Homo sapiens: one gene and its partners. The protein of the gene in region 2 purifies or fractionates together with the protein of the main gene of each other region. This does not show direct contact. Each region holds a gene or a part of one and is shown on either strand. Other genes may lie near its edges.

What was found.
Region 1: the proteins of VCAM1 (region 2) and INPPL1 purify together in Homo sapiens (affinity purification with mass spectrometry, with the first as the bait; one large-scale study listed by BioGRID). This does not show direct contact.
Region 3: the proteins of VCAM1 (region 2) and ITGB1 purify together in Homo sapiens (affinity purification with mass spectrometry; 2 studies listed by BioGRID and IntAct, with this or other methods). This does not show direct contact.
Region 4: the proteins of VCAM1 (region 2) and TLN1 purify together in Homo sapiens (affinity purification with mass spectrometry; 2 studies listed by BioGRID and IntAct, with this or other methods). This does not show direct contact.
Region 5: the proteins of VCAM1 (region 2) and ANXA2 purify together in Homo sapiens (affinity purification with mass spectrometry, with the first as the bait; one large-scale study listed by BioGRID). This does not show direct contact.
Region 6: the proteins of VCAM1 (region 2) and NAA15 purify together in Homo sapiens (affinity purification with mass spectrometry, with the first as the bait; one large-scale study listed by BioGRID). This does not show direct contact.
Region 7: the proteins of VCAM1 (region 2) and SEMA4D purify together in Homo sapiens (affinity purification with mass spectrometry; 2 studies listed by BioGRID and IntAct, with this or other methods). This does not show direct contact.

What each region holds. Positions count from the first base shown.
Region 1 is NC_000011.10:72,227,767-72,231,266, forward strand, and holds part of INPPL1 (phosphatidylinositol 3,4,5-trisphosphate 5-phosphatase 2), read left to right. Parts: intron 1-423; coding exon 424-487; intron 488-581; coding exon 582-732; intron 733-960; coding exon 961-1,081; intron 1,082-1,241; coding exon of another isoform or gene 1,242-1,323; coding exon 1,324-1,464; intron 1,465-1,698; coding exon 1,699-1,792; intron 1,793-1,896; coding exon 1,897-1,986; intron 1,987-2,157; coding exon 2,158-2,253; intron 2,254-2,354; coding exon 2,355-2,505; intron 2,506-2,595; coding exon 2,596-2,702; intron 2,703-3,029; coding exon 3,030-3,132; intron 3,133-3,226; coding exon 3,227-3,423; intron 3,424-3,500. UniProt on the Homo sapiens protein: Phosphatidylinositol (PtdIns) phosphatase that specifically hydrolyzes the 5-phosphate of phosphatidylinositol-3,4,5-trisphosphate (PtdIns(3,4,5)P3) to produce PtdIns(3,4)P2, thereby negatively regulating the PI3K (phosphoinositide 3-kinase) pathways.
Region 2 is NC_000001.11:100,722,742-100,726,241, forward strand, and holds part of VCAM1 (vascular cell adhesion protein 1 isoform a precursor), read left to right. Parts: intron 1-278; coding exon 279-599; intron 600-1,882; coding exon 1,883-2,149; intron 2,150-3,500. UniProt on the Homo sapiens protein: Cell adhesion glycoprotein predominantly expressed on the surface of endothelial cells that plays an important role in immune surveillance and inflammation.
Region 3 is NC_000010.11:32,920,231-32,923,730, reverse strand, and holds part of ITGB1 (integrin beta-1 isoform 1A precursor), read left to right. Parts: coding exon 1-146; intron 147-995; coding exon 996-1,091; intron 1,092-1,384; coding exon 1,385-1,474; intron 1,475-3,345; coding exon 3,346-3,486; intron 3,487-3,500.
Region 4 is NC_000009.12:35,722,196-35,725,695, reverse strand, and holds part of TLN1 (talin-1), read left to right. Parts: 5' UTR 1-1; coding exon 2-131; intron 132-374; coding exon 375-472; intron 473-736; coding exon 737-866; intron 867-971; coding exon 972-1,124; intron 1,125-1,361; coding exon 1,362-1,504; intron 1,505-1,616; coding exon 1,617-1,744; intron 1,745-2,774; coding exon 2,775-2,835; intron 2,836-3,472; coding exon 3,473-3,500. UniProt on the Homo sapiens protein: High molecular weight cytoskeletal protein concentrated at regions of cell-matrix and cell-cell contacts. Involved in connections of major cytoskeletal structures to the plasma membrane.
Region 5 is NC_000015.10:60,363,487-60,366,986, reverse strand, and holds part of ANXA2 (annexin A2), read left to right. Parts: intron 1-2,463; coding exon 2,464-2,558; intron 2,559-3,500. UniProt on the Homo sapiens protein: Calcium-regulated membrane-binding protein whose affinity for calcium is greatly enhanced by anionic phospholipids. It binds two calcium ions with high affinity. May be involved in heat-stress response.
Region 6 is NC_000004.12:139,308,005-139,311,504, forward strand, and holds part of NAA15 (N-alpha-acetyltransferase 15, NatA auxiliary subunit), read left to right. Parts: intron 1-3,500. UniProt on the Homo sapiens protein: Auxillary subunit of N-terminal acetyltransferase complexes which display alpha (N-terminal) acetyltransferase (NAT) activity. The NAT activity may be important for vascular, hematopoietic and neuronal growth and development.
Region 7 is NC_000009.12:89,383,114-89,386,613, reverse strand, and holds part of SEMA4D (semaphorin-4D isoform 1 precursor), read left to right. Parts: intron 1-131; coding exon 132-247; intron 248-508; coding exon of another isoform or gene 509-667; exon of another isoform or gene 668-3,500. UniProt on the Homo sapiens protein: Cell surface receptor for PLXNB1 and PLXNB2 that plays an important role in cell-cell signaling. Regulates GABAergic synapse development. Promotes the development of inhibitory synapses in a PLXNB1-dependent manner.

The DNA of each region.
Region 1 (3,500 bases), on a different chromosome or scaffold from region 2:
GAGGCATACACACGTGTTAGCACGTTGCCCGTGTGTGCAAATGGGCTAACCAGGCTTCTGAAGACTCTTACTCTGGCGGGGAGCCCAGACTGGTACCACAGCCCAGAGGGGCTGTTTAGACAGCTGTGGAGGCCACAAAAGAGCTCCCTGTTGCTTCTCAGGCCCTGCCCTGTGGTGGGTGTGGAGTCTGTGTAGGTCTGGTGGGGAGACGGGGGTGTTCTGGTCATTCCTGCCCAATAGGCAACACCAGGAGGGTGGAAGTGGACCGGCCACATCATTAACCCTGTGCAGCCTGGGCAGGTGGTTTTAGGGAAACCAAGCTGAGGGGGTTGGGGTGCTGAGCTTGCTGGCAGGAGGAAGGGGTGCTTTGGGTCTTAGACCCCAGCCTGGGGGTGACAGATTCTGGCCCTGCCTTGGCATCAGGTATCAGAAGCATGTGCACACGTATCGCATTCTGCCTGATGGAGAAGATTTCTTGGCTGTGCAGGTAGGAGCTTGGGCCCCTGACCCCTGACCTTGATCCAGCCTAGGGCTTGGGGACCTGCTGGCTGACCCTTCCTCCCACCCTTGCTGGCCCACAGACCTCGCAGGGTGTGCCTGTGCGCCGCTTCCAGACCCTGGGTGAGCTCATCGGCCTGTACGCCCAGCCCAACCAGGGCCTTGTGTGCGCCCTGCTTCTTCCTGTAGAGGGTGAGCGAGAGCCGGACCCACCGGATGACCGGGATGCCTCAGGTACTTCCCAGTGTGCAGGTCCCCTCCCTGCCCCTGTCCCTTGGCTCTACCTGCCTCTTCCCATCCCCCCTTCTCAACCCCACCTCTCCTGTAACCCCCTTTCCCTTGGCCATGATGCCGGGGCCCTTTAACCCTCTTTCCATGGAAGTCACTTTACAGCTGCATCGTGCCTCCTACTCCACTGAGTGTGGGAGGCCCAAACGGCTGCCCACTGACCCCTGCCCACAGATGGGGAGGATGAGAAGCCCCCGCTGCCCCCGCGCTCTGGCTCCACCAGCATTTCTGCCCCCACTGGGCCCAGCAGTCCCCTGCCAGCTCCTGAGACTCCCACAGCTCCAGCTGCTGAGAGGTGAGACCCCCATCCCATCCACTGAACAGGAGACCCTTTCTCCTCTGAGAACTATTTCCCTACCAAAGGTGGGGAGGCCTTCTAAGACCCCACCAGGGACCCCCACCCCACCTCAGCCCAGAGGCAGATAACCTGATCCATCCCGCCCTGGTTGCCACAGGTACTATCTCCTCTAGGGATGGGGCAGAGGTGCTGGGACAGGTCAGCAGGACCTCCACTGACTTCTTAACCCCTCCCCAAAGTGCTCCCAATGGGCTGAGCACCGTCTCGCACGACTACCTGAAAGGCAGCTATGGGCTGGACCTGGAAGCTGTGAGGGGTGGAGCCAGCCACCTGCCCCACCTCACCCGTACCCTCGCTACCTCATGCCGGAGGCTGCACAGGTATCTGGGACATCCAGCCCCATGTATTACACCCTTACCTCTGACCTGTCCTCACCTGCTTCCCGGCTGCACAGGTGCCCTGATCTCTGATCCTGAACAGTGAACTAGCCATTGCCTCTTGACTTTCCTCACTGGTAGCCTTTATCCTTGTGGTGAGGTTGAGGCTACACCCAGCGCCCCCTTCCCTATACTTAGGTCGGGGTGGGAGTTCTTTTGATCTGATGTCTTCCCTAGTGAGGTGGACAAGGTCCTGTCAGGCCTGGAGATCCTGTCCAAGGTGTTTGACCAGCAGAGCTCGCCCATGGTGACCCGCCTTTTGCAGCAGCAGGTAGATTGTAGGGAGACCTCTGGGAGGTGCGTTCGTGTTCTGGAGCTGGGTGGGAGGCTCTGCTTAGGTGACTCATGTACAAGCCTGGTTCTTCCTCCCCCCAGAACCTGCCACAGACAGGGGAGCAGGAACTAGAGAGCCTGGTGCTGAAGCTGTCAGTGCTAAAGGACTTCCTGTCAGGCATCCAGAAGAAGGTGGCATGATCTCTGACCCTTGACCCCCGATTCACTGGCCACTGTCATTGGCCTAGCACTGATCTCAACCCTCAGTCTACAACTTAACATTGGCCCCAAGGTCAATTGTGTCCCTCCCTGCCCCAGCCTTCAGTGTGTCCCCTGACCCCGCCCTGCCCTTGTTCCCTCCAGGCCCTGAAGGCCCTACAGGACATGAGCTCCACAGCACCCCCAGCTCCGCAGCCATCCACACGTAAGGCCAAGACCATCCCCGTGCAGGCCTTTGAGGTACATGGCAGTGGGGCCTCACAGGGCCAAGGGTGGTTGGAGGTGACCAGGGTGCTGCCTACTCCAAGGTCTTGTCAGCAGCCTCCCCACCTGGCCTACAGGTGAAGCTAGATGTGACCCTGGGTGACCTGACCAAGATTGGGAAGTCACAGAAGTTCACGCTGAGCGTGGATGTGGAGGGTGGGCGGCTGGTGCTGCTGCGGAGACAGCGGGACTCCCAGGAGGACTGGACCACCTTCACGCACGACCGCAGTGAGCCAGGGCCAGACCTGGGAGGGGTGGGCAGGGCGGAGCCCCTGGCCTAGGGGCACAGGCCCATGTGACCGGTCCTCCATGCCCTAGTCCGCCAGCTCATTAAGTCCCAGCGTGTCCAGAACAAGCTGGGTGTTGTGTTTGAGAAGGAGAAGGACCGGACTCAGCGCAAGGACTTCATCTTTGTCAGTGCCCGGGTGAGCAGCAGGCTGGGCCAGGCCACTGGGGACTGCGGGGGTCCCCCACATGGGTGCTTCCCATTGGAGGGTAAGAAAGGGAACACATGATGTAGGCATGCCATCCCTCCTGGCAGGGGTAGGTCTGACAGGGTAGAGGGTGTTGAGAACGGGTGGCCTGAGGGTGGATAACATTTGCCAGCACTGTTATATGCTTGAGCAGTGGGTATGCAGTGGAGAACCAGACAGACCCTCTCCTCATGGACATGAGCCAACTGGCAGGGTATCCCTGTGGACGGGGGGCTTCCTGGATGCCTACCCGCCCCTGAGTGGCTGCTGTTCCCCCAGAAGCGGGAGGCCTTCTGCCAGCTGTTGCAGCTCATGAAGAACAAGCACTCCAAGCAGGACGAGCCCGACATGATCTCAGTCTTCATAGGCACCTGGAACATGGGTCAGGCCCGGGCTGGGGCTGGGGCGGGAGAGAGGGATGGCCCCAGAGCAGGTGCCTAACCCCTCCAGACCCACCTCACCCCCTTCACCTCCAGGAAGTGTACCACCTCCAAAAAACGTGACATCCTGGTTCACATCGAAGGGTCTGGGGAAGACCCTGGACGAGGTCACAGTGACCATACCCCATGACATCTATGTCTTTGGGACCCAGGAGAACTCAGTGGGCGACCGCGAGTGGCTGGACCTACTGCGCGGGGGCCTCAAGGAGCTTACGGATCTGGATTACCGCCCGGTGAGGGGGGGTCATCTTGTCCAGGACCCTGTCCTCACACACCACCTCCAAACTAGCCTACTTGACTTCATGGGCAA
Region 2 (3,500 bases):
TCAATATAAACATTATTTTTTCTTCTTTCTTTTACTGTAATAACATGCAACTCTTAATATATACAGGATCAGAATTGAATAATGTTGTAAAAAATGTTTGCTTCCAATTCTTGTGCCTTGAACTCACCCCAAATCATGAAAGGCTATTCAAACAGTTCTGTCGTATTAAGACTGTATTAACAAAAACGCTAGACTTGATTTGTATTGTGTTAAAGTGGTAAGAGACCTTATATCACATTAGCAAAAAGCCCATCCATGTATTTGTTTGGCCTTTTCAGCTTTTCCTAAGGATCCAGAGATTCATTTGAGTGGCCCTCTGGAGGCTGGGAAGCCGATCACAGTCAAGTGTTCAGTTGCTGATGTATACCCATTTGACAGGCTGGAGATAGACTTACTGAAAGGAGATCATCTCATGAAGAGTCAGGAATTTCTGGAGGATGCAGACAGGAAGTCCCTGGAAACCAAGAGTTTGGAAGTAACCTTTACTCCTGTCATTGAGGATATTGGAAAAGTTCTTGTTTGCCGAGCTAAATTACACATTGATGAAATGGATTCTGTGCCCACAGTAAGGCAGGCTGTAAAAGAATTGCAAGTCTACAGTAAGTACTTGTGCGATGTGTTCCAGTCTTTGTGGGAATCCCACCTTGGTTGTGTATAGCAATAAACTTAGCAGAAAAGTAAAAAAAAAAAAAACTTGTATATAGTTTGTATTCCATTTGTATTCATTCACAACATAATGTTTGTCAATAGTATAATTCAGTGAAAAGAACACTGGATTTGGACTGAGAAGGCTTGAGCTTAATTTCTGGCTCTATTAACTGTGTGAGTTTGGGTTACTTAATTTCTCTATTTCCCAGTGTATAAAAGGGGAATAGTAATACCACCTGATTGGGTAGTGGGAAATAGGCTCAAATGATAAAACATTTTAATATTGTTTTGTAAACTCTTATAGTATGCCTTGAACTATTAGTTGCACAGGTACAGAAACTTGACAAGGTGATCACTTATTCTGTGTGTGTATGTGTGTGTGTGTATGCATATGCACATACATACATAGGTGCACTGGACAGGGGAAAAATGACGGGGTTTGATTGCCTCCAATCTCCCTGATACTGCCAGGGGATTTGTGGGAGTCTTGTAGTCCCAGCGTTGTGTAGGAGTGGCCTCACTGTGCTCTGTTCTGGACTAAAATGCTATGTTCTGCACTGGGTACCACATTTAAAGGGAGTATTGCCAACTACGGCATGTTTAGCTGAAAGAGAATGAGCTGGGAAGGCTTTTAACAATATTTTGAGAAGAATAGTCAAGATAGAGGATATTTTTCTGAAGAGAAAACAAAACCTGGCTGGAAAAGACATCTAATTAAGCATTTGAAAGACAGTTATATGAAAGAGTGATTTACCTTATTCTGTAACAGCACAGGGCTGAATTATGGCCAATATGTTTAAAATAGTATAGAGAGAAGATTTCAGCTCAATAGGGAGAAATGTGCTAATATGTAGAGCTGTCCAAAAATCAAATTGACTCTTTTGGAAAGCAGTGGGTTGATTCTCTCAGTAAATGTTGAAGCTGACTTGAATGGGCACTTGGCAAGAATGCTTAAATGGGACTCTTACCCTTAAGTGGGAGGTTAAGCCACATGGTTTTTCTTAATTTCTGAGTATCTACAACCATCTGAAAAATATGAAACATCAACTAAACTTGATCAGTTTAGTCAGAAACTGGATAGACTATTTTGAATGATTCAGCAGTTCTTTATACTAATTTGGCAGAGTAATTTCATCAAATTGGTGGAAGCACATAAATACTAAGAGAAATACATTACCTCTGTTGCACTGGGATGATGCTTAGCAATTGCTAATATTATTTTTTGCCCTTTCAGTATCACCCAAGAATACAGTTATTTCTGTGAATCCATCCACAAAGCTGCAAGAAGGTGGCTCTGTGACCATGACCTGTTCCAGCGAGGGTCTACCAGCTCCAGAGATTTTCTGGAGTAAGAAATTAGATAATGGGAATCTACAGCACCTTTCTGGAAATGCAACTCTCACCTTAATTGCTATGAGGATGGAAGATTCTGGAATTTATGTGTGTGAAGGAGTTAATTTGATTGGGAAAAACAGAAAAGAGGTGGAATTAATTGTTCAAGGTGAGTAGAATGTGAAAAAGGAATGATAAAGGTGCTGTCAGTGGGATTTGAGCAATAGTCAACACAGCTTCAATGCTGAAATTGCTTCCCTTAGTTTCACTGATGACCTATCTGATTGCCATATCCTTTAGCACAAATATATGTTTATCTTACTAGTACTCTGTGGAAGTCTTCCCTCCCAGAGTTTCCATGGCTCTGCTTTTCTGATTCTTTTTCATCTCATATCACTTTTTCTCTGCTTCATTCCCTCACTTTCTCTCTTCCTCCTTCCCCTTGGATATTGGTATTTTCAAGTTTACACCCCTGGGTCCTCTTCTGTTCTCACACTAGATTCCCAGGAATTGGACTACAATATGTTGATTACTCCCAAATTCATGTTCCAATTCCATGCTGTTAAATCCTGTCAGTTCTACCTCAAAATGCTCCCTGGAATATGACCTCTTCTTCACCCCACTTGCCATTGCCTTAGTTTATCATCTCTCACTTGGGCTCCTGCAAGATATTCTTACATAACAGCATTCGCTAAACACCAGATAGGTTTCTGGCACTTTCCATATGCCATCCTCAAGAAATAACTAAAAAGTAAGTATTTTGTATTCATTTTACAGATGAGAGAGTGGAATCTCCCAGAGATTAATAATGACACCACCTATTGATTGTACACCTAATATTTCCCAGGAATTCTGTATTCTGCTTTATATATTTTATCTCATTAATCTTTACCACAACACTATTAAAAACCCAGGCTCAGCATAGTTCATACTTTTCCTGGGGCTAAATAGCTCTTTAGTTGCATTTACTATGATTTTGATGCAGGTTCATTTTAATGAAAACCCCTTTGCCTTTTTAATTTTATAGCTAATTGTCTTTATTATTTCTTTTTTAAAATATTTTTAATTGATAAATCATGATTGTATACATTTATAGATTACAATGTGATGTTTGGTATAGGTATACAATGTAGAATGATTAAGTCAAGTCAACAAATCCATTGCCTCACTTGCTCTTTTGTGGTGATACATTTGAAATTCACTTTCTTAGCTATTTTTAAATATACAATATATTATCATTAACTATAGTCATCATGATGTACAATAGATCTAAACAACTTACTCTCCTGTCTAACTGAACCTTTGTATCCATTGACCAACATCTCCTTGTTCCCTTCCACTCCTCGCCCCAGCCTCTGGTAACCACCATTCTACTCTCTACTTCTATGACTTTAGAAGTAGATCCCACATATAAGTGAGATCAGGAGGTACTGGCTTCTCTGTGCCTGGCTTGTTTCACTTAGCATAGTGTCCTCTGGGTTCATCCCTTTTGTTGCAAATGACAGAATTTCCTCTTTTGT
Region 3 (3,500 bases), on a different chromosome or scaffold from region 2:
GCTGGAGGAATGTTACACGGCTGCTGGTGTTTTCCACAGATGCCGGGTTTCACTTTGCTGGAGATGGGAAACTTGGTGGCATTGTTTTACCAAATGATGGACAATGTCACCTGGAAAATAATATGTACACAATGAGCCATTATTATGTAAGTGCCTGGTTCCTTACATAGTGAATGTGTTTATGTTGGATTTTAATGTTTAATACTAAGAGCTTGTGGGTGACTGGCTTGGGGTTTCTCAGGGTTTGAGGTTTTGCTGTTTTGGTAAGTAGGGGTCCTGATTGAAAGTGCAGGAAAGCTAGTGTTGCTGTTTGTGAAGATGCAGCTTTGTATTTGCTTCCTTCTGCTCAGACAAGGGCCTCACTGGGGTGGGAAAGGGATGCCCAGATGCCACTTTCACTCTTTGCCTCAACTCCCCGCCCACAGCATTTGGTAGCACAGTCAGTACTCTTTCTAAATAAATAATTTATCTAGTCTCATACTCTTTGTTTTATACGATTTTTAAAAGCAGTCACTCTGCCTTTATTGAAAATAAATATTGGCAAAGCATTCAAGTTCTAGAAGAAATCCAAATGGTAAATCTTGGTCTTTTTCTTAAGTTGTAGATAATAGAATATTTAATTACTGACTATTCTTTAATTTCATTGTCCTTATATTTAATATACATAGATAAACTTACTATTTAAAACCTTTTGAATATGGAATTTTTTATTCATACATGAAAGTAAAGAGAAGAGGATTAGCAATTCATGTATACACACGACTCACTTCAGCAGTTTATATTTGATACTGTTATTTGAAAGCAGTCTTGTAATCTAGTTATATGTATGCAACTAGATGTAATCTAGCTATATATGGATTATATATGTAATCTAGTTATCTAAAGCAGTCTTGTAATCGAGTTATGTGTAATCTTGCATGTATAACTAGATTGAAAAATTAGAAGAGATTATAAGGGTGTATTTAAATACTAAATTATATTACTTGATTTCTTAGGATTATCCTTCTATTGCTCACCTTGTCCAGAAACTGAGTGAAAATAATATTCAGACAATTTTTGCAGTTACTGAAGAATTTCAGCCTGTTTACAAGGTAAATGTGTGAGATAAAAAGAACAAGATTCTAAACATTTTTGATTGTTAGAGGCAAATCATGTCTGAATTGAAATGTGGGAAAATGCCACCAGATAGGCAAACCGAATTTTACAAAAGTGGTTTATATTAATTTTTAATCACATATTATAAAACTGGTTTCTAGGTTTGACTCCTAAAGTTAGTTAGGAGGAAACATGGGAACTGGCATTTAAAGATAAAAGTTGCTCAGTGGATCCTAATTGGTTGAATGAATAGCAGTTGTATTTTACGTGTTTTATCTTTTAATTGCAGGAGCTGAAAAACTTGATCCCTAAGTCAGCAGTAGGAACATTATCTGCAAATTCTAGCAATGTAATTCAGTTGATCATTGATGCATACAATGTGAGTACATCTTAAATAAGATCAGTTTTGGACAATACCCTGTTGAGAATACTTTGTACAAAGAAAGTAAAACTTCCTTCATACACACTTTAGCGAGCCCAAAGTACTACAGAAAAACTTAAATTCTGTATGTATCTAGAGGAAAAACTTTATACATATTGTCTTACAAAAGCAAGATTCATGGCCTAAACAAAGTGAAAATGTGATAAAGGCATGTGGGGAGTATTTCCAAATAACTGTTTGTTTATCATTAAGGAATAGATCTCCTTGTTAGAAAGCAATTGTAAAACATAACTTACATTTAAACTTACAGGATTTCTCCAATCTTTTTCCTCCCCAAAATATCCTTTATAGAGTCATCTATTCTGATGAATTGTGCTAGAAAAGTTTTTTTTTTTGCCAATTCTTCTCTTCCCATATATTCAGAGGATATGGGTTTCTATTTCAGGAGGTACACACTCATATATACGTATACCATAAAATATATAAAAATGTAAATATACATGTGATTTGCCTATTTCAAAAAGATTTATAGTGTTGTTTTCCCCTCACAGATGGGAGGAAGTTGAATTGAAATTAAAGAGGAATTGGCTTATCCTTTTTGAGCATAATTCAGTGTACTTTAATCACACCGAGTTAGCCTTCATTAATAATCATTTAAATAATCTGAAGGCGGTTGTAATTTGGTAGGTAACCCTTGTGTGTCTCGTGCACCACTTTCAGCCCCCATCCCCCTAACCCTTTGGCAGCTTGAATTTTAGACATTTTTACTTCATGTCATGGGGGTACCATAACGCTTTGGAAAGGCCAGCCTACCATATGAGGCTTCCCTTTTTTATGGGGTACCATAATGGTTTGGAAAGGCCTGACTTGGAGGGGTTTTTATAAAGGTTTTTAATATTTTACTTGTTCCACAGCTTTTCCCATTCTCCCCTGTCTTAGATAATTTTCCTAACTCTTGTTCTTTCAGGGGTGTGAACAAGAGATAGCTTGCCATTGTACCCTTCTCCATTTGTCCTGAATAGTCTCATATGTTAAACAAGCCCTGGCTTGAATCCTTCCTTCTTGGGGGATTTTGTTTTTTTTTTTTTTTGGCTGGGCTACAATGGTTCCTTAAGCAAATTTGTTCCTAGACTGCATAGTTGATTGTTTACCCTAGTCCATAGTTAGCTGGAGAGGTAGGACTACAGAAATGCCATTTTGCCGATGGGGAAGACAGCATTTATTTCGTTTTTTTTTGGGGGGTTTCTGTTTTTGTTTTTGTTTTTGTTTTTTAGATGGAGTCGCACTCTGTTGCTCAGGCTGGAGTGCAGTGGTGTGATCTTGGCTCACTGCAACCCCTGCCTCCCGGGTTCAGGCGATTCTTCTGTCTCAGCCTCCCGAGTAGCTGGGATTACAGGTGCACACTGCCATGCTTGGATAAATTTTTTTTTTTTTTTGTATTTTAGCGGAGATGGGGTTTCACTGTGTTGGCCAGGCTGGTCTCCAACTCCTGAGCTCAGGCAGTCCACCTACCTTGGCCTCCCAAAGTGCTGGGATTACAGGTGTGAGCTACCACACCCGGCCTATTCCACATTTTTAAGACTCCTCCTAATTAGTAACAGCCCTCTGCACTGTGTGATCCTGAGTATTTTAACTCAGTGATTAAAACAGGAATACTCTTTTCAATTGTGTATTTTATTTTAAAGATTTGATCCTTATTAATTAAAACCTGTTTCTCTGGCCTCTGTGTTTTCTAGTTACTCAATTGGATTTGGCTTGTAGATACTTTATTGAAATATATTTTTTTCTGAGCAGTTTATCCATTGGTTTTATGCATTCAAGTAGCATTTTGTTTGACTTTTCCTGTGTATAATTAGGCATTCTTTTAGTCCCTTTCCTCAGAAGTCATTTTGGAAAACGGCAAATTGTCAGAAGGCGTAACAATAAGTTACAAATCTTACTGCAAGAACGGGGTGAATGGAACAGGGGAAAATGGAAGAAAATGTTCCAATATTTCCATTGGAGATGAGGTATGTTGTATAAA
Region 4 (3,500 bases), on a different chromosome or scaffold from region 2:
CATGGTTGCACTTTCACTGAAGATCAGCATTGGGAATGTGGTGAAGACGATGCAGTTTGAGCCGTCTACCATGGTGTACGACGCCTGCCGCATCATTCGTGAGCGGATCCCAGAGGCCCCAGCTGGTCCTCGTGAGTCTGACTCCCCCGGTGGCTGGAGTGGGAGTCTTCAGTCCCTTCTTGTTCCCAGGCTCTCGGCCTTGAGAGTTGACCCCTTTGTCCCCTAAGACTACTCACCCCTCAGGTCTGTGTTCCATGGTTCCCTCGTTCTTTAGGCCCAAGGTCATGGGAGAAATAGTCAGGGGCAACATGGTACAAGCTGTTCAGCCACATTGGGGTCTTCATAAGCCTAAAGTGATCCATCCTCTCTTTTAGCCAGCGACTTTGGGCTCTTTCTGTCAGATGATGACCCCAAAAAGGGTATATGGCTGGAGGCTGGGAAAGCTTTGGACTACTACATGCTCCGAAATGGGGTAAGTATCCTTTCATCAAGGACCACCACATCCCCTTCCATCAGCTTCTCCCTGTTCCACCTCCTGTTTTCAGCACCCACATCTGTTGTCTCTTAGCCCTCCCCATGCTTTCTTCCTATTAACAGACAGTCATAATTCCCTGCTTTTGAACGAACCACCATAGTCTTCCTTTCAGTGCTCCACTCTCTCCCCTCGGGCTGTGTAAAGAGGAAATAATACCCCTAGCTCAGAGTAGGCCCCTGTCTCTTCTTCCTGCCCTAACAGGACACTATGGAGTACAGGAAGAAACAGAGACCCCTGAAGATCCGTATGCTGGATGGAACTGTGAAGACGATCATGGTGGATGACTCTAAGACTGTCACTGACATGCTCATGACCATCTGTGCCCGCATTGGTAAGGGGCCCTAGTACAGTTGAAAGCCTGGGCCAGAAAGCCTCAACTCTCTCAAAAGGCATGGATGCAGTACCTGGGAAGCTAACAAGCCATCTCCTTCCTCAGGCATCACCAATCATGATGAATATTCATTGGTTCGAGAGCTGATGGAAGAGAAAAAGGAGGAAATAACAGGGACCTTAAGAAAGGACAAGACATTGCTGCGAGATGAAAAGAAGATGGAGAAACTAAAGCAGAAATTGCACACAGATGATGAGTGTAAGCAGAACTAGAAAAAAGAGGGCTTTTGAAATGGGAAGGGTGGGAAGGGGCTTCAGCATCTGCTTCTGCCAGGCACTGTTTTACACCCTGGGGATACATCAGTGAGAAAACAAAGTCCTACACTCATGGGACTTACATTTAAGTGAGGGGAGGTAGGAAATGCAGAAATAAACAGAGACCAGACAGCACAGGGGCCATGGGGGTTTGGCACTGAGGGGACTGTCTGTATCCCAGTGAACTGGCTGGACCATGGTCGGACACTGAGGGAGCAGGGTGTAGAGGAGCACGAGACGCTGCTGCTGCGGAGGAAGTTCTTTTACTCAGACCAGAATGTGGATTCCCGGGACCCTGTACAGCTGAACCTCCTGTATGTGCAGGTATGCAGAGGACTTGGCTGGGGTGGGGCAGGAATAGGGAGGGCTCGGAAGCACAGTGTGCGTGTCCTTGCACCCACACACAACATTCGCCTCCTTGCCCTGTGCTCTCCAGGCACGAGATGACATCCTGAATGGCTCCCACCCTGTCTCCTTTGACAAGGCCTGTGAGTTTGCTGGCTTCCAATGCCAGATCCAGTTTGGGCCCCACAATGAGCAGAAGCACAAGGCTGGCTTCCTTGAGTGAGTGACCCACATCCTATACCCTGTCAGGGCCCAGGACTCCCTGCCATTGTGACCCCAGTGGGCCTGTCTCCATTCCAAGCCTGCCCCCCACTATTTCTTCTTCCGAGGTACCAGGGTTTGACCAACATAGCTACCCTTTTAGTTGCCATCATCCATTGTCTCTTCTCTGCCTCTGGAATATGAATGTAGTTCAGTATCTCTGCCCCTACCCCCATCTCTGAAGCAAGCATGTCACTCTTTTTTGAGATTATCTGAAGAATTTTGCTGCAGTAGCCAGAGGGAAACCGGGTAAAATTTTCCCTATAGGGAACATGGGTTAAAAGTCTCACAAGCCTCATCTGCTGGTGTTTCTTGGAATGCAGAGTTTGGCGTGGCTTTCTCAGCTTCCTAAGTGCATGTTCATCCTTCTAGAAAGCTCTTTCTCCTCTTGGTTCCCTGAAATGGTGCTCTAGACCCACTTTCCCTCAGGGACTGAGCCTCTAACTTAATTTTCCTCAGTCCCTTTCCCTACAGGGAGAGACACAGGTCACATTAAGAATTCATACTGGCCAGGCTCGGTGGCTCACACCTGTAATCCCAGCACTTTGGGAGGCCAGGGCGGGCAGATCACCTGAGGTCGGGAGTTCGAGACCAGCCTGACCAACGTGGAGAAACCATGTATCTCTACTAAAAATACAAAATTAGCCAGGCGTGGTGGCACATGCCTGTAATCCCAGCTACTCGGGAGGCTGAGGCAGGAGAATCACTTGAACCTGGGAGGTGGAGGTTTTGGTGAGCTGAGATCGTGCCATTGCACTCCAGCCTGGGCAACAAGAGTGAAACTCCATCTCAAAAAAAAAAAAGAAGAGTTTACACGAAGTCACCTCTATTTCAGAAGATAATCTAGACTCTATTCCCTCAGAGTCTTTTTTCTCCCCAAAGATAACACTGTCCTAGGTATTTCCTCATACCCCCAGGCCCACAGTTCATGGCCCACATGTCCCCTGATGCTGTCTACCACATGCTGACCCTCCCTTTTCTGGTGTAGCCTGAAGGACTTCCTGCCCAAGGAGTATGTGAAGCAGAAGGGAGAGCGTAAGATCTTCCAGGTGAATGTGGGTAGGGGAAAGTATTTGGGATGACCGCGGAGCTTTGCTGCTTAATCTTACTGACTAAATGGCCCCCTGCCTCCTCCCCGTCTCCCCTAACTTGGCTTTCACCCACCGGGCTGTTATCCCACCTCACCTCTGCCAAGAAAGCAGACAGCTTGGGCTTTTAGTCTCAGCTCCATCCCTGCTTTTGCTGTGCAATTCAGTTCAATATTCTTGTAATCTTTTATTTACCTCTGATTTGGGATAACAGTACTTGCCCCGTGTAGGACTGATAGGATCAAATGAGGTAGCATAATCTGAAATTACTGTGAAAGAGTATAGTCTTTGTCCACTATAAGGTGTTACCCCCACTCTGAATACTCAGCCCAGAAGGCCTTCTCTTTGCCCTTCTACTTCCAAACTCTCTGTTCATATCTCCAGAATGTCTGCAAGTTCCTTGACTGTATCCCTTGACTCATCGCTTCTGCATAGCCCTTATCAGCCTCCATCCCGTTACCCTCTCGTTCTCATATCTTGTACTCCTCAACCTTTCCAGTGTCCCCATAATTCTCTCTCGTTAGAGTTAGCATCCAACCTTAATTCCTTAGCTGTGATATGAAACTCTTTGCTAAATTCTTCCCCATTTTATGCACAGGCACACAAGAATTGTGGGCAGATGAGTG
Region 5 (3,500 bases), on a different chromosome or scaffold from region 2:
GGGCTGACCCCCCCACCTCCCTCCCGGACGGGGCGGCTGGCCGGGCAGAGGGGTCCTCACTTCCCAGTAGGGGCGGCCGGGCAGAGGCGCCCCTCACCTCCCGGACGGGGCGGCCGGCCGGGCGGGGGGCTGACCCCCCCACCTCCCTCCCGGACGGGGCGGCTGGCCGACCCCCCCCCCCCCCGCCTCCCTCCCGGACGGGGCGGCTGGCCGGGCAGAGGGGCTCCTCACTTCCCAGTAGGGGCGGCCGGGCAGAGGAGCCCCTCACCTCCCGGACGGGGCGGCTGGCCGGGCGGGGGGCTGACCCCCCCCACCTCCCTCCCGGACGGGGTGGCTGCCGGGCGGAGACGCTCCTCACTTCCCAGACGGGGTGGTTGCCGGACGGAGGGGCTCCTCACTTCTCAGACGGGGCGGTTGCCAGGCAGAGGGTTTCCTCACTTCTCAGACGGAGCGGCCGGGCAGAGACGCTCCTCATCTCCCAGACAGGGTCGCGGCCGGGCAGAGGCGCTCCTCACATCCCAGACAGGGCGGTGGGGCAGAGGTGCTCCCCACATCTCAGACGATGGGCGGCCGCGCAGAGATGCTCCTCACTTCCTAGATGGGATGGCGGCGGGGAAGAGGCGCTCCTCACTTTCCAGACTGGGCAGCCAGGCAGAGGGGCTCCTCATATCCCAGACGATGGGCGGCCAGGCAGAGACGCTCCTCACTTCCCAGACGGGGTGGCGGCCGGGCAGAGGCTGCAATCTGGGCTCTTTGGGAGGCCAAGGCAGGCGGCTGGGAGGTGGTTGTAGCGAGCCGAGATCACGCCACTGCACTCCAGCCTGGGCACCATTGAGCACTGAGTGAACGAGACTCCATCTGCAATCCCAGCACCTCGGGAGGCCGAGGCTGGCGGATCACTCGCGGTTAGGAGCTGGAGACCAGCCCGGCCAACACAGCGAAACCCCGTCTCCACCAAAAAAAAACGAAAACCAGTCAGGCGTGGCGGCGCGCGCCTGCAATCGCAGGCACTCGGCAGGCTGAGGCAGGAGAATCAGGCAGGGAGGTTGCAGTGAGCCGAGATGGCAGCAGTACCGTCCAGCTTTGGCTCGGCATCAGAGGGAGACCGTGGAGGGAGAGGGAGGGGGAGGGGGAGGGGGAGAGGGAGAGGGAGAGGGAGACTCAGCAGCAATTGGATTTCTATGTTTACCTTGGCTACTCTAAAAATGAGAGCTAAAGTTATAGATGCTACAGTTAAGATAGCAAGCATATTGGTATGGACTTGCTTTGAAATGAGCATATACATTTTAAAAAGTTATTTATTTTTATACCCAGAAATTCTAACTTTATACTTTTTGATCTAACACACTTGAGAATTCAAAATACTTCCTCTGTCAATCTGCTGTTTGTCTTTGTCTCAAGCGTTACAGTTTTGACCTTTCTGTTTCTTCAGGACTCCTCTGATTTTCTTCAGGCCAAGCCATTTGTAGTTTGCAAGTGACTTTGTAGGTTTAGCAACTCTACTCTCTCACCCAAGAGTTACCTATCCAGTTATGGCAAAGACTGTTTCTTTCATTAAACAAAGTTATTAATCAGTCAGGAGAGAGACTTTTCACATTCTGAATTTACAAACTGTGCTTTCTTAAGTTAAATGGCATGTTAGGAGTATTTCTGATATGAAATTGGAAACTTGCAGACACCAGAAGGCATTGCTTATCTTTGTAAATACACATGTTCCAATTAAAATAGGTACTAAAATATTTTGGTGGCACCTCAAAACTCCCAATTTAGATTTAATTTAGATTAAAACACTTACTCTTTTTAATAAAGTTATAAAATTAATTATTAAAATTGCCTATTGAAGATTAAAGGCAGTGGAACGTTTATTTTCCTTACAAAACAATTTTGTCTTCAATAAGTGTGATTGTGTTAATCAATTATGCTATTAAAAATACAACTGCCGTGTTAAATCTGACTCATTTGTCATGACAGTTTTTATAATTATAGAAATTATACCTAGCTGCTTATATAGCCATAATCCTGCAATAAGTATAAATAATTATCTCTATTAATTCAGTTTGCAGTTACTCTCTATTAAATCCCGAGTTAAATGGCAATTTGGGGACCTTCATTTAAAATCCTACTAAATCTCTGTTGTTCCATCTGACTGCCAAAGCCCCACATATGCACCTCCTACTGTTGATTCCAGAAACCAATTTATGAATAAAATAGTTTTTAAACCACAAGTATTTAAAAGGTCCATTTAAGCTTGAGGTTTGAGGCTCTCAAGAAAAAAGGAAAGAGAGTGTACACATTGGGTAGAGGATGCTGACGAAAGAGATAGAACAAATCTTGGTGTCTGGGTATTTCAGTTTGGAAAACAGTATATAAATTTCAGTTTGAAAAAGTCTGCTTGACACCTTCTATGTAAGCCCAAAATACTAGAGTATACTGAGTAACGATTAACAACTTGTATTTCCATAGGTGTGGATGAGGTCACCATTGTCAACATTTTGACCAACCGCAGCAATGCACAGAGACAGGATATTGCCTTCGCCTACCAGAGAAGGACCAAAAAGGTACAGGCAATTCCAGGGATGGAGGGCATTTCTTGTTGAATTTTTGTTTCCTCAGACATTGCTTTTTCTTTTCATGAATTGTGGCTCTCATGCGCAAAAGACTTGTGGGACCCTTGGATATCTAAGATTTTCTTCTTAAATCCTTGTAAGAGTCACTGCACATGTGTGTGTGCGTGTGTGCACGCGCGCGTGCACCTCAGGTCATCAGGCATTAGGTTCTCATAAGGAGTGTACAACATAGATCCCTCGCGTGTGCAGTTCACAGTAGGGTTCGCGCTTCTGTGAGAATCTCATGCCACCGTTGATCTGAGAGGAGGCAGAGCGCAGATGGTCACGCTCGCTTTAGAGTGCTTGGGAGCTCCTGTGTAAGGACAGTACCCTCCCCCAACCCAGGCTACCTGGAGGGAGAGCTTCTGGGAATAGAAAGTTAGGAATAGGGAACAACAACAATAACAACAACAGGCACCATTTATTGAGTGCTTACTTTGGGCCAGGCACTGTGCTCAGTTTTGTACATGTAGCAACTCATTTCATCTTTATGACTTCTGCTGGTTCTTGATAAGATGTTTCTAATTTAATTTTAGGATACTAGCCTCCACTGAGTGTTGATCCTAACAAGCTCCTCTCATTTTAAAAATATACACTTGAATTCTTAAGCTTTTTGCAACGAGTGGGCTTAGTTGTTAGTTCATTTGGTCTGCAAAGCTATCTTCAACATGCCATGCTCCTACTATTTAAAGGGTCTTTGTGTGCTTTTTCCCTTTGCTTGTCCACTAGTGGTTAAGAAACAACCAGTGCGTGTTCGTCCTTTATTTTGTCAGTTGTAGGAAATTTTATTTTTAAGGACGTGCTGCTTTATTTTTAACTTCTTGCTATTAAAAGCTTTTGATTTATTCTTGGACAGTGCAGTAAGTGTGGCTTCCTGCAGCTCCCGTTTGACTT
Region 6 (3,500 bases), on a different chromosome or scaffold from region 2:
AGGCTGGAGTGTAGTGGTGCAATCTCGGCTCATTGCATGCTCTGCCTCCCGGGTTCACGCCATTCTCCTGCCTCAGCCTCCTGAGTAGCTGAGACTACAGGCACCTGCCACCACACCCAGCTAATTTTTTGTATTTTTAGTAGAGACGGGGTTTCACCGTGTTAGCCAGGATGGTCTCGATCTCCTGACCTCCTGATCTGCCCGCCTTGGCCTCCCTAAGTGCTAGGATTACAGGCATGAACCACCGCGCCCGGCCCATTGTATAATAGGTAAATTATTTTATGTGATTTATTTTCTTTGGGAAAGTTAATGTTTCTGCTAGTTAATGATACTTAGTTTAGCTTCAGTTGCTGATGAAATTTAGATTAGGAATTGTTAGCAAGTAGGTGTCCATATGCACATGAAAGTTTAACTGATTAATTTCTTTGTGACAGAATTCCAGTTTTGCAACTAAGAGTGGACAGTAACTTTGAAATTGGTTTTAATATACTTTTGCTTGTACTTCATATATTTAGAATATAACAAAAAATCAAAAAATGGAAACAAAGTTTGGTCTGTTCTGAAATCCCATTCAGCTCTTAGTAGTTAATCATAAGTTTATTTATTTTTTTGAGATGGAGTCTCACTTTTGTCGTCCAGGCTGGAGTACAGTGGCGTGATCTCAGCTCACTGCACTCTCCGACTCACTGCAACCTCCACCTCCCAGGTTCAAGTGATTCTCCTGCCTCAGCCTCCCCAGTAGCTGGGATTACAGGTGTCCACCACCACACCCAGCTAAGTTTTATATTTTTAGTACAGACAGGGTTTCGCCATGTTGGCGAGGCTGGTCTCAGACTGCTTACCTCGGGTGATCCACCCACCTCAGCCTCTCCCAAGTGCTGGGATTACAGGCGTGAGCCACCGCACCCTGCCGGTAATCGTAAATTTAAACTCGGATAAATTATCCCTTAAAAGTATACCAGAAAACAAAATGCAGTTTTGCTATTTTATATATGTGTATATAATGTGTATATAATTATTATAAAAATTACAAAATGATTTTTCTGTAAAAATCGAGTGAGGGCCGGGCACAGTGGCTCACGCCTGTAATCCCAGCACTTTGGGAGGCTGAGGCGGGTGGATCACCTGAGGTCAGGAGTTAGAGACCAGCCTGGCCAACATGGTGAAACCCCGTCTTTACTAAAAATACGAAACTTAGCTGGGCGTGGTTGCAGGCACCTGTAATCCCAGCTACTTGGGAGGCTGAGGCGGGAGAATTATTTGAACCCAGGAGGTGGAGGTTGCAGTGAGCCGAGATCGCGCCATTGCTCTCCAGCCTGGGGGACAAGAGTGAAACTTCGTCTCAAAAAAAAAAAAAAAAATCTAGTGAGAAGTGAAAATCTTTTAATAATGTGGTAAATTTATTCTTTGCTTGCTTTTTAAGTGTGTGTGTGTGTGTGTGTGTGTGTGTGTGTGTGTGTGTGTGTCCAGGATTTCACTGTGTTGCCCAGGCTAGTCCTGAGCTCAGGTGATCCTCCTGCTTCAGCCTGCCAAGTAGCTGAGATTATGGTACATGCTACTGCGCCTGGCCTGTTTGCTTACTTTTTAATTTTTGTCTTTCTGGAGTGAGATGCAGTATGAATGAACAAATATATGTTTTTGTTTTAAACTGACAGCATATATTTTTAAAATTCTGTATTGTGTTAGAAACCTGAAATGTTTTAAAAAATATTTTTTAAAAATTCTTTTGCGTCAATAGAGTGGGTTAAAAATACTTGTTTGTGCAGAGTGACCACAGTTCAGTTTTCAATAGTAGTAGATGGACAACACTATATTTTCAGAAAAGCAGACTAAAGCTTAAAAGGGAACTGAATTTAATGTTCCATTTTTTAGATGTGTCAAAGTCTTGCAGTCCTGGGTCATTATTGGGGCTCAAACTAGTTATTTGATGATAATAGAATTGCCATCCAAACTATTGGAGCGCTGGTTAATGAACAGTTTCCAGAGGGGCGGGCATGGTGCTCGGTGTGATTGGGGGACTGGAGAGATACTGTCCAGCTGGCCTCAACTGAAGGGATCCCTCTCCTTAGTGTGCAGTCTTATATCTTTTAATATTTCTGCTTCTGACAATGAAGTTCTGACAGAGCATTGATTCAAATATATCTTCTTTCTTCATAAAAACATTTTTGGGCCGGGCGCGGTGGCTCACGCCTGTAATCCCAGCACTTTGGGAGGCCGAGGCGGGCGGATCACGAGGTCAGGAGATCGAGACCATCCTGGCTAAAACGGTGAAACCCTGTCTCTACTAAAAATACAAAAAATTAGCCGGGCGTAGTGGCGGGCGCCTGTAGTCCCAGCTACTTGGGAGGCTGAGGCAGGAGAATGGCGTGAACCCAGGAGGCGGAGCTTGCAGTGAGCCGAGATCCCGCCACTGCACTCCAGCCTGGGCGACAGAGCGAGACTCCGTCTCAAAAAAAAAAAAAAAACATTTTTGGACATAAAAAGCTATGTCGTATAAAGGATCATATGCAAAGGACTGTTCAGAATTTTCTCCCCCAGATACCTGTGTGACTCATTTTTCTTATTTGTTTTAGGACTTCTGCTCAGATGTCCTTTATTTTTAATTTTAAATTTATTTTTATTATTATTTTTTGAGACAGGGTTTTGCTCTGTCACTCAGCCTAGCATGCAGTGGCACAATTTTAGTTTACTTCAGCCTCTGCCTCCTGGGTTCAAGTGATTCTCCTGCCTCAGCTTCCTGAGTAGCTGGGATTCCAGGTGCCTCCTACCACACCTGGCTAATTTTTGTATTTTTAGTACAGGCGGGGTTTCACCATGTTGGCCAGGCTGGTCTTGAACTCCAGGCCTCAGGTGATCCACCTGCCTCGGCCTCCCAAAATGCTGGAATTACAGGTGTGAGCCATTATGCCTGGCCTAATTTAAAAAATTTTGAGACAGAGTCTTACTCTGTTGCCCAGGCTGGAGGGCTGGAGTGCAGTAGTGTGATCTCGGCTCACTGCAACCTCTGTCTCCTGGGTTCAAGCGATTCTCCCACCTTAGTCTTCTGGGTAGCTGGGACTACAGGCACATGCCACCATGCCTGGCTAAACAGGTGTCCTTTAAATGTTATTTAGAGACCTTCCTTGGCTAGCAGTCAGTCCTTCTCACCTTATTTTCTTATTTCTTACTTTATTCTCATTTATCAGCTTCTGACATACATTTACTTTTATGTTTATCACGTTTTCCACAATTAAAATGTAGGGTTTATGAAGATAAGGACGTCTGTTAATGGCTCTATTCACATTGGTTAAAATGATGTACCATAGTAGATGTTTAATAAATATTTGTTATGTGAAGTGAGTGTGAAAATAGTGATTACAGGGCAAGAGAGAAAAAGATCTTTGGATTGTGTGCTTGCATAAATTTTTGGAGAAGGGAGTTAAGCTGGGCTTTGGCATTACAGAGTACATTAGTGTATGAAATAATTGTAGGATATTGGGCAGAGCCTATATTATGGTAAG
Region 7 (3,500 bases), on a different chromosome or scaffold from region 2:
CATCATTGTTTTCTAAGTATCTGTGGAGGGAATGACTTGAGAGTGAAGAGTGTGAAGTTTGCCGCTGTGGTCACTGTCCTTGGTTTCTGTGTCTGGGTTAGTGTCACTGACCTGTAGCTTTGGCCCTGCAGACCGGGGAGCTCTGCACAAAGCCATCAGCCTCGAGCACGCTGTTCACATCATCGAGGAGACCCAGCTCTTCCAGGACTTTGAGCCAGTCCAGACCCTGCTGCTGTCTTCAAAGAAGGTAAAGTGACGCAGGCAGCTGGACCGGGGGCTTCTCCGCTCGGTGGCTTTGATTCTAGGTGACAGGAGAGTTGGCAAGCTGGAGTCGGGCTCCTGGGCAGGCCCCTCTGTCTGTCTGCCCTGGGTGAGCCAACCTTCAGAGTTTGACACAGAGCCATTCCGTGAGCTGTGGGATCTGAATTGGGGAAGGCAGGAAGGCAGACCTGGGGAGACGGGACTTTCTCTTCGAAGTTGCTGGAATGTCATTGAGTTGTTGGTGCAGCTTTACAGGCTGTGGAGAGGTGGGCACTGCTCCATGAAGACACCTTTTTATGCCCTGAGCTTGGGGGGTGTGCAGACTGCATCTGTGGGATATGATAGTGATACAGCTGACTCGTCACCGTGGAAAATCCACAAGAGAAGTGGTTCGTCTCATCTGTAAAGCTGTCTCCACCTGTGGCTGAGACTCTGGTCTGGCCTGCAATACTCCCAAGCAGCCCTTGGCAGGGGTGGGTGGGCGGGCATCCACGCTGGCCTTTAGGGGGCTGCCTCCCTGGCCCTGGCTCCTAACGGGACCTCCAACCACCTTGTGGGATCCAGGCCCAGTCAGTCCTCTCCTCCCTCAGCTGGGAGCAACAGGCAGAGGAAGAGGGCCCCTGTCTGGCCGGGTAAGATACCTACCCTTGGCAGGTGCGTATTTGCAAACACCCCTCCAGGTCTTCTGTCCTCTTCCCTCCCCTGTATCCACAAAGCTTGGGAGCCTGGGTCCTTTTACGTGGTCACCTCCCCTCTGCTAATGGAGAGTTCTCCCTCAGATCTGAAAGGAAAAGAGAATGAAATAGCCTGAGCAAGTTATAAGCCACTGGGTACTGGCATCTGTTCACCAGCCTCTCGGTCTCCAGGACACAAAGGGAGCCCTGGAGATTTGAAGGGTCGACGCTTTAGCCACTGTGGGGCCTCACCCCAGCCTCGTTGTTGAAAGAAGGGGACCCAGAAGCTCTTCTGGGGCCATCGTGCTGTTCAGTGGCCTCAGCCAGACTGGGCAGGCACCTACAACATCTCTAAAATGTGGACTTCTCATTAGAATGAAGATTGGGCCCCTGGTGTGGACATTCGTGAGAATGACACTCTGTTCCAAGGGTCACTTAGGGACCCAGGCTGGTGGAGGCTTCCAGGGCACATGGGCACTGATCCTCAAAGGCAGAAGGGGGTAGGAAGAGGAGGGCCGCACAGAGGGGGTTACGGGTCAGTGCCCACCCGCCATCTCCCAGAACTCGGTCACATGGCCACACCAGGGCAGCTGGCCACACAGGGAGCCTCGCGCCCAGGAGGAGGAGCCAGTGGGTTTGGGGAAGCGCTTGCTGGTCCTACTGGACCACCCGACCCGCCTGTCTCTGTAGGAGCCTCCATTCGTGGGGACGTGGCTTAGTTGCCTGGACAAGCGGAAATACATCCTGCCTGCCGTGGGGTCCTGTGCCTTCTCCTTGGGCCTCAGTAGGCTCCAGGTGGGGGTGGAAGGCCCAGCTCCATGGCCATGGCAGCAGGAAGTGGCTGTTCAGTGGTAAAAAGACTGTGCCGCCTGACCCCATCAGGCTCTCTCACGGTGATCAGCAAATGGAGAAACGGCCAGTACCACGCCCTCCCCCTGTCCTACAGCTGGGGAGGTGCGCTGTGCCTCCACCCTCACCTCCTCTCCCCTGATGACAAGCATGGGGTTTTGCTTTTTATTTTGGTAAATACACATCAGATGAAATTTGCCGTCTTAACCATTTTTCATTGTGCACGTCAGTGGCATTAAGAACATTCACGTTGTTTTGCAGCCATTACCACTGTCTGTCTGCAGGGTGCTTTTCATCTTCCCAAACAGAAGCTTTTTACCTGTGAAATACAAACTCTTCATTTTCCCCTCCTCCAGCCCTGGGCAGCCGCCATTCTGCTTTCTGTTTCTGTCTGGGTACCTCATATGAGTGGAATCACACAGTATTTATCCATTTGTAACTGGCTTATTTCACTTAACATAAAGTCCTCAAGGTTCCTCCCTGCTGTAGCAGGGGTCAGGGTTTTCCAAGGCTACATACTCCTCTGTCGTATGTGAATACCGCATTTTGTGAGTCCCGCATTTTGTGTGTGCGTTCATCCCTTGATGGACACGGTTGCTCCCACCTTCTGGCTTCTGTGAACAGTGCTGCTGTGAACGTGGGTGTGCAGATACCTCAAGTCCTTGCTTTCCATTCCTTGGGCGCACACAGCAGATGCGGTTTGCTCGGCCCTCTCTGAGCCCACCGAGTAGGCTGTGTCTGTATTTTCACCAGGACTCCTTGGGATGCTGAGCTACAGCTAGCGTGGCAGAGGGCAAGGAAGGCACTTAGACAGCTCAGTTGCCTCTGATCACGTCCACCGTCACTCCAACCTGCCCTCGGGGTCTGACGCGCACACACAGCAGCAGAGACAGAGATGGGAGCATGAGAGCTGCCTGCAAGGGGACAATCCTCAGGCCCAGGGAAGGCGGAGACAGGGGGCGTCGAGGGGCAGGAGTGCACAGGACAGGCTTGCTCTCAGCGGGCCTCACTCATGCTGCCAGGTGCCTGGTCAGGCTTTTTTTCTTTGCCTTTAAAAATTTTGTCTTGAAATAATTTTAAATTTACAGAAGAGTTTTGATGATTGCACAGAAGGATCTTGAGCGCCCCCACCTAGCTCCACATGTCCGATGTCTCACATAGCCAGTGTGCATTTATCTGAGCCAAGGTGCTGTCATGGTGCAGTGCGTTACCTGAACCCCAGACCCTGGACCCTCCTACCTCCCGCCCACCACATTCCTGGCTCAGCACCTCAGGTTGCACTGGACACTGCATCTCCTCGGCTTCTGCTCTGTTCCTGCCTCCCTGACCTCAGCACTCCTGGAGAGGAGTAGTCTGGTGTTTTGTGGTGTGTCTGGTGTATTCTTGTGATTATCTTGGGGTCGTGGTTTTAGGGGGAGCACCAAAGAGGGCGCTTTCTGGGGATGGGGCATCTGTATGACTCGCACCAGCGTGATGACCTTGGTCATTCTGTCCAAGTCACCACCGTCTTTTTCCATGTCGAGTGTGTCGGGGCATGTAGTCCACACTGGGGGTGGGGGAGAGTGAGCCCCACCTCCCAGGGGAGTCATGTGGGAAACCCCCACAGTCATTCATGCTTATTTGCAGGGACAGACTTGGAGGCTACAGAAATGCCCTGTTCTCCCACCCACTGACATCCACATCGACCAGTGGGTCCTGCCTGCAGCAGTTACAGCT